3 linked regions of the Homo sapiens genome follow. The protein of the gene in region 2 purifies or fractionates together with the protein of the main gene of each other region. This does not show direct contact. Each region holds a gene or a part of one and is shown on either strand. Other genes may lie near its edges. The genes, in order: CLSTN1, ST8SIA5 and TMEM132A.

What was found.
Region 1: the proteins of ST8SIA5 (region 2) and CLSTN1 purify together in Homo sapiens (affinity purification with mass spectrometry; one large-scale study listed by BioGRID and IntAct). This does not show direct contact.
Region 3: the proteins of ST8SIA5 (region 2) and TMEM132A purify together in Homo sapiens (affinity purification with mass spectrometry; one large-scale study listed by BioGRID and IntAct). This does not show direct contact.

Annotation. Positions count from the first base shown.
Region 1 is NC_000001.11:9,750,942-9,754,588, reverse strand, and holds part of CLSTN1 (calsyntenin-1 isoform 1 precursor), read left to right. Parts: intron 1-2,907; coding exon 2,908-3,116; intron 3,117-3,647. UniProt on the Homo sapiens protein: Postsynaptic adhesion molecule that binds to presynaptic neurexins to mediate both excitatory and inhibitory synapse formation.
Region 2 is NC_000018.10:46,687,416-46,691,062, reverse strand, and holds part of ST8SIA5 (alpha-2,8-sialyltransferase 8E), read left to right. Parts: intron 1-2,143; coding exon 2,144-2,288; intron 2,289-3,647. UniProt on the Homo sapiens protein: Involved in the synthesis of gangliosides GD1c, GT1a, GQ1b, GP1c and GT3 from GD1a, GT1b, GM1b and GD3 respectively.
Region 3 is NC_000011.10:60,927,357-60,931,003, forward strand, and holds part of TMEM132A (transmembrane protein 132A isoform b precursor), read left to right. Parts: coding exon 1-62; intron 63-284; coding exon 285-503; intron 504-1,272; coding exon 1,273-1,604; intron 1,605-3,153; coding exon 3,154-3,303; intron 3,304-3,647. UniProt on the Homo sapiens protein: May play a role in embryonic and postnatal development of the brain. Increased resistance to cell death induced by serum starvation in cultured cells. Regulates cAMP-induced GFAP gene expression via STAT3 phosphorylation.

The sequences.
Region 1 (3,647 bases), on a different chromosome or scaffold from region 2:
CCGTACCTGGCCTTTTTGTGTTTTGTTTTTGAGATGGAGTTTCGCTGTTTCACCCAAGCTGGAGTGTAGTGGCACGATCTTGGCTCATTGGAACCTCCGCCTTCCGGTTTCAAGTGATTTTTCTGCCTCAGCCTCCCGAGTAGCTGGGATTACAGGTGCCTGCCACCACGCCTGGCTAATTTTTGTATTTTTAGTAGAGACGGGTTTCACCATGTTGGCCAGGCTGGTATCAAACTCCTGACCCCATCATTCACCTGCCTCGGCCTCCCAAAGTGCTAGGATTACAGGCGTGAGCCACCACACCCGGCCTAGGTTTTTAATAAATGAATGAGTGAATAATTTTATCACACCAAATACTCTATTAAAGAAGTAAAGGCCCTACATTAAAAATTGAAAAAGTCTGCTTCTCCCTTAGGAAGGTTATTTTGTTGTCATATTTATCTTTTGCTGTAATTCCTAAGGGCATAAACTTAATCATTGTTGGCCAGGTGCAGTGGCTCACACCTATAATCCCAGCACTTTGGGAGGCTGAGGTGGGAAGATTGCTTGAGCCTAGGAGTTTGAGAGCAGCCTAGACAATGTAGGAGATGCCATCTCTACAAAACATAAACAGCCAGGTATGGTGGCACATGCCTGTGGTCTCAGCTACTTGGGAGGCTAAGGCGGGAGGATTGCTTGAGCCCGAGAGGTTGAGGCTGCAGTGAGCCATGATTGTGCCACTGTACTCCAGTCTGAGTGTCAGAATGAGACCCTGTCCCTAAAAAACAATAACAACAAAAATTGGCCAGGCACGGTGGCTCACGCCTGTAATCCCAGCACTTTGGGAGGCCGAGGCAGGCAGATCACCTGAGGTGATTTTCACCTGAGGTCAGGAGTTCATGACCAGCCTGGCCAACATGGAGAAACCCTGTCTCTACTAAAAATACAAAATTAACCAGGCATGGTGGCACGCGCCTGTAGTCCCTGCTTCTCGGGAGGCTGAGGCAGGAGAATCACTTGAACCTGGGAGGTGGAGGTTGCACTGAGCCAAGATCACATCATTGCACTCCAGCCTGGGCAAAAAGAATGAAACTCCGTCTCAAAAAAAAAAAAAAATTAGTCACTGCTGGTGGAAGTAGGCTGGCTCGCTGCCACAATCCTGAGTGTGTTGCTGCACCTCCTGCCAGTTAGGAACTGCAGTTGTAGCAGAGAGGGCTTTGGACAAGACAACATAGAACAGGGGTCGCCATACCTCAGGACGTGGGCCAGTACTGGTCCGTGGCCTGTTAGGAACCAGGCCACACAGCAGGAGGTCAACAGCATGTGAGCGAGTGAGCATTTCTGCCCGAGCTCCACCTCCTGTCACATCAGCAGCGGTATCAGATTCTCACAGGAGCGCGAACCCTGTTGTGAACTGAGCATGCCAGGGATCTAGGTTGTGCGCTCCTTATGAGAATCGACTGCCTGATGATCTGAGGTGGGGCATTTTCATCCCAAAACCATCCTCCCACCCCCATCTGTGGAGAAATTGCCTTCCATGAAATCAGTCCTTGGTGCCAAAAAGGCTGGGGACTGCTGGTGTTCTCAAGTCCAGTGTCTTCTACAATTAGATTGTAAGCTCTAGTCTTTTCTAGAGCTCTAGTCTTTTCTCCACCACTTGCTAGCCCTTTGGCATTGTGCAAATTTAATTTTGTTGAGTCTGTTTCTTTTTCTTTTGTTTTATTTATTTATTTATTTACTTATTTTTTGAGGCAGAGTCTCGCTCTGTCACCCAGGCTGGAGTGCGGTGGCACAATCTCGGCTCACTGCAACCTCCACCTCCAGGGTTCAAGCGATTCTCGTGCCTCAGCCTCCCAAGCAGCTGGGATTACAGGCACGCTCCACCACACCTGGCTAATTTTTGTATTTTTGGTAGAGACGGAGTTTCACCATGTTGGCCAGGATGGTCTTTAACTCTGACCTCTGGTGACCCTCCTGCCTCAGCCTCCCAAAGTGCTGGGATAGGTGTGAGCCACCACACCCGGCCCTGAGTCTCAGTTTCTACTTAGCACATCTACTAAAGAAGGGTATGTGGGCGAGATGGTGTCACATAACCCATTGTGAGGGTCAGACCGATGGCACTGGGATGAGGAGGCTCATGGTGAGCAGAAGGTGCAGTGCCCCAGTGAGTCTCTTCTCTTTTTCCACAGTGTAATGTTATTGTTTCCCTTGAAAAGGTCAGATTTTGACCAAAGTCCTTGACTGATTCAGAAGCATGCCCTGACCATTAGCCCTTGAAACCTACAGTTTTTTTTATTTGTAGCCAGGTCTGATGACACCCTAATTTTCTTGATAACTGAGCTGGGGTATTGGCAGGTGGCAACGGCCTGCCTCTCCTGAACTCTTCCATTTGTTGAATCAGGACCAGGTGATGCCATGGACTCCAGCCTATTCCCTAGAAGTAGGACAGAATTCGTTTGAACTCTCAGAATCAAACCATTTCATGCTTTCTCTGTTTCATACCCCTTCTTCCCTTGGCTCTATTTTTTTTCTGGATTTTGCTACAAAATATGTTTCAACTTTATAATTGGAGAGCAAACAGACGTCTGGTATTGTTTATCTCCCTTCTGCCTGTCTTGTCCCATATTGTCAAAAAAAAACACCCAAGTCTCTTTTATTTTAGATGATTGGTTTTTTGCTTTATTCTTAGGATATGGAAGAATCGACCCAAATCCCTCTTTTAACTTTCTGTTATCTCCACACTTGAATGAAAAGCAGTGAATAGCTTGTTTAATTTTTGACTTCATCATATGAATTTCATGAAACAAGGTATCAGAAACAGGAAATTTTAAAGTAGGGCAGAATTGGGTAAACACACATACACACTCTCTGTCTCTCTCTCACACTGAAAACAAGCAGAAAAATATTTTTCTCCCTCCCTTTGTCCAGAGCAACTGTTCATATTCAGGTGAACGACGTGAATGAGTACGCGCCCGTGTTCAAGGAGAAGTCCTACAAAGCCACGGTCATCGAGGGGAAGCAGTACGACAGCATTTTGAGGGTGGAGGCCGTGGATGCCGACTGCTCCCCTCAGTTCAGCCAGATTTGCAGCTACGAAATCATCACTCCAGACGTGCCCTTTACTGTTGACAAAGATGGTAAGAATCGAGGAGCCGGCTTTTCAGCTAGGTAGACAGTCCCTGCTAACCCCACTGACTTTACACCCCAGCTTCTGTGCTTCGTCAGAACTTCATGGAACTCACAAGTTGGAGACCTAACCTGGTGTGTGTTTGCTTTTAATTGTAAAAACATTTAAGTTTCTACTTTGTTCCCTGACAACTTCTTCTCTGGAACCTGTAAGTCCTGTGTTCTCTTGTGGGGCTCACCTCTTTTTTGCTTTCCCACCAAAATCAAATAAAAATCCTCCTACCTGACATGGCTTTGTTTTTTTAATCTTCTTAACTTTCAGTCCACATGCATCTGAATGAGACTGACCTTTACATTTAGTTTGTCTCATTTTCTGTTCTCCATTAAGTTTTTTGTTTTTGTTTTTGTGGTTTTTTTTTGAGACAGTTTCTCACTCTGTTCCCCAGGCTGGAGTACAGTGGTGCGATCTCAGCTCACTGCAACCTCTGCCTCCCGGGTTCAAGTGATTCTCCTACCTTAGCCTCTCGAGTAGCTGGGATTAC
Region 2 (3,647 bases):
TGTGCACACTGCACAGAGGTGCCCCTGGGGGCGAGTGAGACCTGACACACTGAGAGTATGGCTGATAAAACACTCAGCCTGGACCAGGTCAGTGAGAGGCAAAAGCCTGTTGTCCAGACTTAGGGCAGAATAGAAGTCTCAGCAGTGGACCAGGCATGGTGGCTCACGTCTATAATCCCAGCACTTTGGGAGGCCAAGGCGGGTGAATCACCTGAGGTCAGGAGTTCAAGATCAGCCTGGCCAACATGGTGAAACCCTGTCTCTACTAAAAATGCAAAGAAATTAGCCAGGTGTGGTGGTGCACACCTGTAATCCTAGCTACTTGGGAGGCTGAGGCAGGAGAATTGCTTGAACCCGGGAGGTGGAGGTTGCAGTGAGTGGAGATCATGCCAATGCACTCCAGCCTGGGCGACAGAGCGAGACTCCATCTCAAAAAAAAAAAAAAAAAAGTCTCAGCAGCAGGACTCACATATCTCAGGAAACATGAAGCAATAGGGAAATGATGTGGCAAGAGAAAAACAGGGATGAGTGTGGGAGCCTTTGGCAGGGACAAGACAGCACAGTGCAGGGGTGGAGCTCTGGGCATGAGGGGTGTGGAGCAGTTTCAGGTGTGAGAAAAGGCAGTGACATCAGGCCTTGCCATGCTCTAAGTGAGAAAACCTTCCAGGCTGGTCATTGCCTCCCTTTGCTCTCATTTCAAGCTCATGGAACAATGATGAGATGCTTCATTCAGGCTGGCAGGAACCTGGTGCCATGAGGGAGTGTCAGGTGGGTGCTAGAAGGCAGGCATGAGCTTTCGAATTACAGGAAATGAATCCTGTAACAGGCCTTCTCCCACCCTGCTGCCTACAAATAGGCACACTGACATTCTGGTTTGTATATCAGTCACTTATGAGCTTGGTTAGTGTGAGTCAGTATCCCTCAATAGGAGTGATCTCCAGTGGGCTGACAAGACTGAGCTTCTGAACTAGCAAAGCTAAAAGGCCCAGATGCCAGTTTGTAATGCCAATCCATGGCCCTGCCTTGCCAGGCCTCTGGTCTCCTCTCTGGGAAGCTTCTGTTACATTCTGAAACCCAGCTCTCCACAGGAAATTCTGCTCTCTGTGACTGGGAGCCAGCTAGGCTTCCCAGTGAAGTACCTGCAAGAGATGAAATTAAAAAAAAAAACATTATAGGCCAGGCATGGTGACTCACACCTGTAATCCCAGCACTTTGGGAGTCTGAGAGGCTGAAGCAGGTGGATCACCTGAGGTTAGGAGTTCGAGACCAGCCTGGCCAACATGGAGAAACCTTGACTCTACTAAAAAAAAAAAAAAAAAAAATTAGCCAGGCATGGTGGTGCTTGCCTGTAATCCCAGCTACTTGGGAGGCTGTGGCAGAAGAATCACTTGAACCCAGGAGGCGAAGATTGCAGTGAGCCGAGATCGCACCATTGAACTCCAACCTGGGTGACAGAGTGAGACCCTGTCTCAAAAAAAAAAAAAAAAAAATCATAAAACATTCCTGGCTTTTGCAAGCTGGAATCACAAATTACAGAGGATTAGAGGTAGAAGAGCCAAGCCTGTATGAGGAAACTAGGGCCCAGAGAGAAAGAGAGAGACCTTCCAGTAGCCTCACAACTGGTCGGGGCAGAGCAGAAGCAAGAATCCAGGCCTCTTGACACCAGGACGGCAGCCCAAGTTTCCATGCCAGGCCTGGCTGGGAGCTCTTTGGAAAGCTCCTCCTTACCCTCTATTAGTGGCCAGGACTCAGGCTCCGTCGAGGAGTTCCATACAGTGCAGACAGGGGCAGCTGGGTGGGGCTTCATGGAAAGAAGCCTGGCCTGGGCCCTGAATGAGTGGCAGAAGGCAGGGGCCTTGGGAGAGGCGTTGAAAAGGGAGGGGACTGCATGAGCAGAGGTGTAGGTTGGGGGCAAGCCTGGGAATGAGTGGGCAGGAGAGGCCTCGGCTCCATGCAGGGTGGGGATGTGTGTGGGATGGGTGGGCAGGAGAGGCCTCGGCTCCATGCAGGGTGGGGGCAAGCGTGGGATAGGTGAGCAGGAGAGGCCTCGGCTCCACCCCTCTGTTCTCCGTGAGGTTGTGCTCTGCCCTCCATCACATCTTTCCTGCATCACGTCTTTCCTGCCTGTCTCCCTGCCTGGCAGGTCTACTCTGTCCAGGTGCTGCAACGCCCCTGCCTTTCTCTTCACCACCCAGAAGAACACTCCCCTGGGGACAAAGCTCAAGTATGAGGTGGACACCAGTGGCATCTACCACATCAACCAGGAGATCTTCCGCATGTTTCCCAAGGTGCTGCTTTGGGCGGGGGCGGTCTGGGTGGGGCGAGGGAGCCAATCCAGCAGTAGCCCTCCGTGGCAATGTCCCTGGGGTTTTGCCTGACTCACTCACGGTCCTCTGGACTCAGTTGTCTTGGTCCTGGTTGACCAGTTGTCTGAGGTGCAGAAGCCCACCCTCTGGATTTCTTTGGGGGTTCTGTCTGAGAACCATGACTGCCAACTGTCTATGATTTGAGTGACTTTTGGCGAGAAAGTGACTAGAAAATTCTGGGTATTGCATTGCTTGCAGAGGATATCCTGCAGATAGGGAGAGAATGACAACACATTCGTCCCCCTCCTGAGGTAGGCACAAGAGCAAACGCACATGCAGAAGTTGTGAGCACAAGAAAGAACAACCCAGTGCAGATCTAGACTCTGAAAGATTCAGCTCACTTGATGACCGTGGGCAGATATTTTGTCTTTCAAAGCCTCAATCTCCTTATTTGTAACACTGGGGCTTGGACTATGAATAGATTTGGCTGATTATAACAGAACTTCTAAAATATCAGAGTCTTAATCAAGATAGATATTTATTTTTTTCCTTTCACATAAAAGAATTCTGGAGGTAGGCTGTGCAGGGCTGGCACGGTGGCTCCCTGGTCATGGAGGACCACAAAATGAATGAGCCGCAGACCTGAATGGTTCAGATCACTGACCTTGGCCATTGAGGACCGCAGTGAGTGAGCTGCAGACGTGAACTGTTCAGATCACTGATGCTGAGCACCTGCAATCACCTGGGCTGACGGTTGGTGCAGACTCACCGCACTACTCTCAGAGAAGGGGCGCTGGAACCTGCGCTTTCAGCCAGTTCTGGCAATTACCCAGGTGTGGTGGCGTATGGACTCTGAAGAGGAGGAAGGTTGCATGGGTGTGTTCATAACCACATTCAGGAGAGCTCTGGGCCCAGGACAGCATTCAGTGAATGTAGTTTATAGAAATTCTGAGTGGGGGCATGTAGAGGTCTTTTTGGAAGAAATCTGAAGGCCTTGGCTGCCTTGCTTCTTGGCTGAGTGCGAAACAAAGCCCAGAGTTCCCTGCATTCTGTGACTGGTACCAAAGTGTATAGGTAAGACTCATGCATTCTGGGGATGTGGGGGAGGAGCTGCAGGTGAGCGGCGTCAAATGTGTTCTCAATCACTGTGGCCCTAAGGGAGGATGGTGCTGAGCCACCTTTATGAGGTGGGTCTTACAAGGCCTGGAACATGAGGCTGGTGACAGCAGGTGGATTTGCATCTCACGCAGGTAATGCCAGTGGGTGTAACACAACTTAGTATGACATACAGATCCAAGGAGAAGCAGCCTATGGACCGCTGAAGGCCAGAGACAGACAGCA
Region 3 (3,647 bases), on a different chromosome or scaffold from region 2:
AGCCCTGGCCCAGGGCCCAGCCACTTCTCCGGGCCTCCTACCCACCTTTTGCCACTCAGCAGGTAAGGAGGGGGCACCGGGGACTCTCAGGCTAACAGGACTCAGGGCCTGAGGTCTGCTGGGTACAAATTGGGAGCCTTCCCCAGCCCCGGCTGTGCTCCCCATATTCCAGAGGGGGAAACTGAGGCCCATAAAGGTTCTCTTCTGCCAAGCTGGGATCCCATCTTCCTAGATCTTCCCCTCCCAAGCTCCTCTTTTGTTAAGCCCTCTCATTCTCCCTCCAGGTGGTCCCCCCTCGAGTCACTGAGCCCCACCAACGGCCAGTCCCATGGGACGTGCGGGCCGTTTCAGTGGAAGCGGCTGTGACTCCAGCAGAGCCCTACGCCCGGGTTCTCTTCCACCTCAAAGGGCAGGATTGGCCACCAGGGTCTGGCAGCCTGCCCTGTGCCCGGCTCCATGCCACACACCCTGCCGGCACTGCTCACCAAGCCTGCCGCTTCCAGGTGAGTAGACAGGCCCCACCTAGGCTGGTCCTGCTGCAGCTGCATCAGCCAGGTGGTGGGCCCGCGGCAGAGAGGAAACCCCCACTCCTGGGAAGCGCGGGGGTTGTGGACCACCCGACTCCATTTCTGCCCCCACTAGCTTTCAGTGCTGTGAAAAGGTTATTTAGGGCCCCAGAGGGAGTTCAGTCCTTGGTGTGTGACTTTGAGTAAGTAACTTAATCTCTCTGAGATTCAGTTTCCTCATCTGAAGAATGGGGTGTTAAGAATTCCTACCCCATCTGGAGTTGGAGTAAGGAACAAGTGAGATGAATGTAAGGATAGCTTACGGCAGAGTAATCAATCAGCCAGTGTGTTTGCATTATTAGTAGTGTTACTTTTATAATTGCTATTTCCACTATTTTGGAGTCTAGCACAGGAATCCATGGGAGAGGCGTCTCTTGAGCTTTAGGATTCTGAGAAGAAGACTGGATTCTAGGCAGGATAGTCCTGGGCTTGGTTAGGGTAAGGCCCTGGGATTGGCTTACTTTGTAATGAGACCTATCCCAAGGGCTGAAGAGTGGTCTGCGGACATGCTCTGAAACCTAGACCTGGTTTGAAGCCCCAGCCAGGTTGCTGGTTTGCTGTGTCACTCAGGCTGTGTCTCCGGCCCATGCTGGGCCTCCCTTTCATGAGCCCCTCCAGCTCTGGGTTTCCTGCCATGGGTGCTGAGAATCCTGTTCCTCGCCCTGCACCCACCCCCATGCCAATTACTGCTGTCGTGTCTTCACAGCCATCCCTGGGCGCCTGCGTGGTGGAGCTGGAGCTTCCCTCGCACTGGTTCTCACAGGCCTCCACCACACGGGCCGAGCTGGCCTACACGCTTGAGCCTGCAGCTGAGGGCCCTGGGGGCTGTGGCTCCGGCGAGGAGAACGACCCTGGGGAGCAGGCCCTCCCAGTGGGGGGTGTGGAGCTGCGCCCAGCAGACCCCCCGCAGTACCAGGAGGTACCTCTGGACGAGGCTGTGACTCTGCGGGTGCCTGACATGCCAGTGCGGCCCGGCCAGCTCTTTAGTGCTACCCTCCTGCTTCGGCACAACTTCACAGCCAGCCTCCTGACCCTGCGGTGAGCACCAGGCCACGGGGATGGGTGAGGGTGGGAACCTCTGTGGGAAGACTAGGGACAGGTACCTGCTCCTCCTGGGGTCCTTGCTGGAATCCTTGACCTCTGCAAAACATGTGTCCACCAAACTAAACTCCTTCCAGGTAAAAAGCCATGACTGTGCTGGTAGGAGCCCACCATGGGCACAGCCCTGGAATTAGAGTCAGAAGTAGGAAGCTGCCCCTTCCCCTGGCACCTCCCTGAGATTCCTTTGTCCAATGGGGCTAACGGTCCACCTTCAGGGCAGCTGCAAGTCTCCAGGGAGGGGAACCCGCAAAGGGCTTAGAGACTGCAGTACCTAAGTGTGAGCTCTTGCTCCAGTGCTCCAGAGAGGGATATTTGCCCCAATCACGTTCACCTACATGCTGTCCCTCCTTGCCACCCTCGCCGTAGGAGTCTAGCCTTTGGACAGAGCTTGCTCTTCCCCATAGGAAGGCCCTGATTCTTTGTGTCCTTTTCCGTAATAAGTTCCCCCAAAGCAGCCCCCACCCACCTACCCAGTTCACCCGGCAAGGGCTTGCAGAGTATGACTTGCTTCTGGAGTCCAGCGCAGGAATCCATGGGAGAGGCATCTCTTAGGCTTTAAGATTCTGAGAAGCCTGAGTTCTAGGCAGGATAGTCCTGGGCTTGGTTAGGGTGAGGCACTGGGACTTGCTCACTTTGTAATGATATCTTTCCTGAGGATCGAAGAGCGGTCTGTGGACATGCTTTGAAACCTAGACCTAGTTTCAAGCCCTGCCTGGGTTTGTGCATGTCCCGTCTCTGTGTCTCCCCATCTCCTACGCCCTCCTATGCTCACTCTTATTAAGCAGATCTTTCCTAGACACTTACAGCCTGCCAAGCCCTGTGTCTTCACTCTGCAGATCCAAACACGAGCAAGGGCCAGTCCCTATCTGGCAGAAAGGGGCCCCAGTGGTAGGGAAGGGAGCTGGATGGGCATGAATTGGATTAGAAGGCATGTGGGTGTGTAAGCACTGAGGGAGGTTCAAAGTGCGGTGGGAGCTCAGGTGAGTGGGTGCAGTAAGGGGGAAATTCATCCCACCACTGGAAAAGCTTTCTAAAGGAAATGGTCTGTGAGTTGTTGGAGGCTTAAAGCATCAGCAGGTAAAGTAAGAAAGGGCAGAGCAGGCTGAAGGCACAGACTGGGCAAAGGCTTGGAGTCACGAATGGGTGCCGTGTGTGTGGGAAACTTGTGTGTAGCTGAAGCAGAGAGTGCATGGAGAGATGTCACAACCGAAGTTAAGGCTGGACCAGACCCTGGAGGGCCCCCAAATGCCCGGCTAAGCTTTGACCTTATGGGCAGTGGGGAGGCGTAAGTGGTCTTTGGGTGGGGGAGAGCTGTAAGGTGTGAGCTGCACTGAGGCGGGGTCCTTCTGGGTTGGAGGATGGTGAAGAGGAGATTCAGACTGGAGCCAGGGAGGTCAGATGGCTTTGGCTCCTTGTCTTTCCCCTTCAATCCAGCCCACAGTTCAGCATGCACCTTGCCAAACTGAGCCTATACTCTCTTCCCCAGGATCAAGGTGAAGAAGGGGCTGCATGTGACAGCCGCCCGCCCAGCCCAGCCCACACTCTGGACTGCCAAGCTGGACCGCTTCAAGGGCTCCAGGCACCACACCACCCTCATCACCTGCCACCGTGCTGGGCTCACAGAGCCAGATTCCAGGTGGGCAGTTTCCCTCCACCCAGGGGGCAAAGGAGGGAGGGCTGGTTATAGAGTGCAGTTGAGCAGATTTGGAGGCTGCCATGCTGCCTCTAGATCCCCAGGTGAGCAGACCCAAGGACAGATTTTTTCAAGGAAGCAGCACAAAGCAGGCATAATCCATTCCTTCATTCATTCATTCGGCCACTATCTTCCCAGCCCCAGCCATGTGCCAGGCATAGCAAGTGTCTGTGAGTCTTATTCTAAGAGATGCCAACCAATCCTGTGCCCCAGGTAGAGCCCTCATAGCCACTACTCCATCCCCCTGCTTCCACCAAATGATCCTTTCTCTGGGCCGTTCACATTCC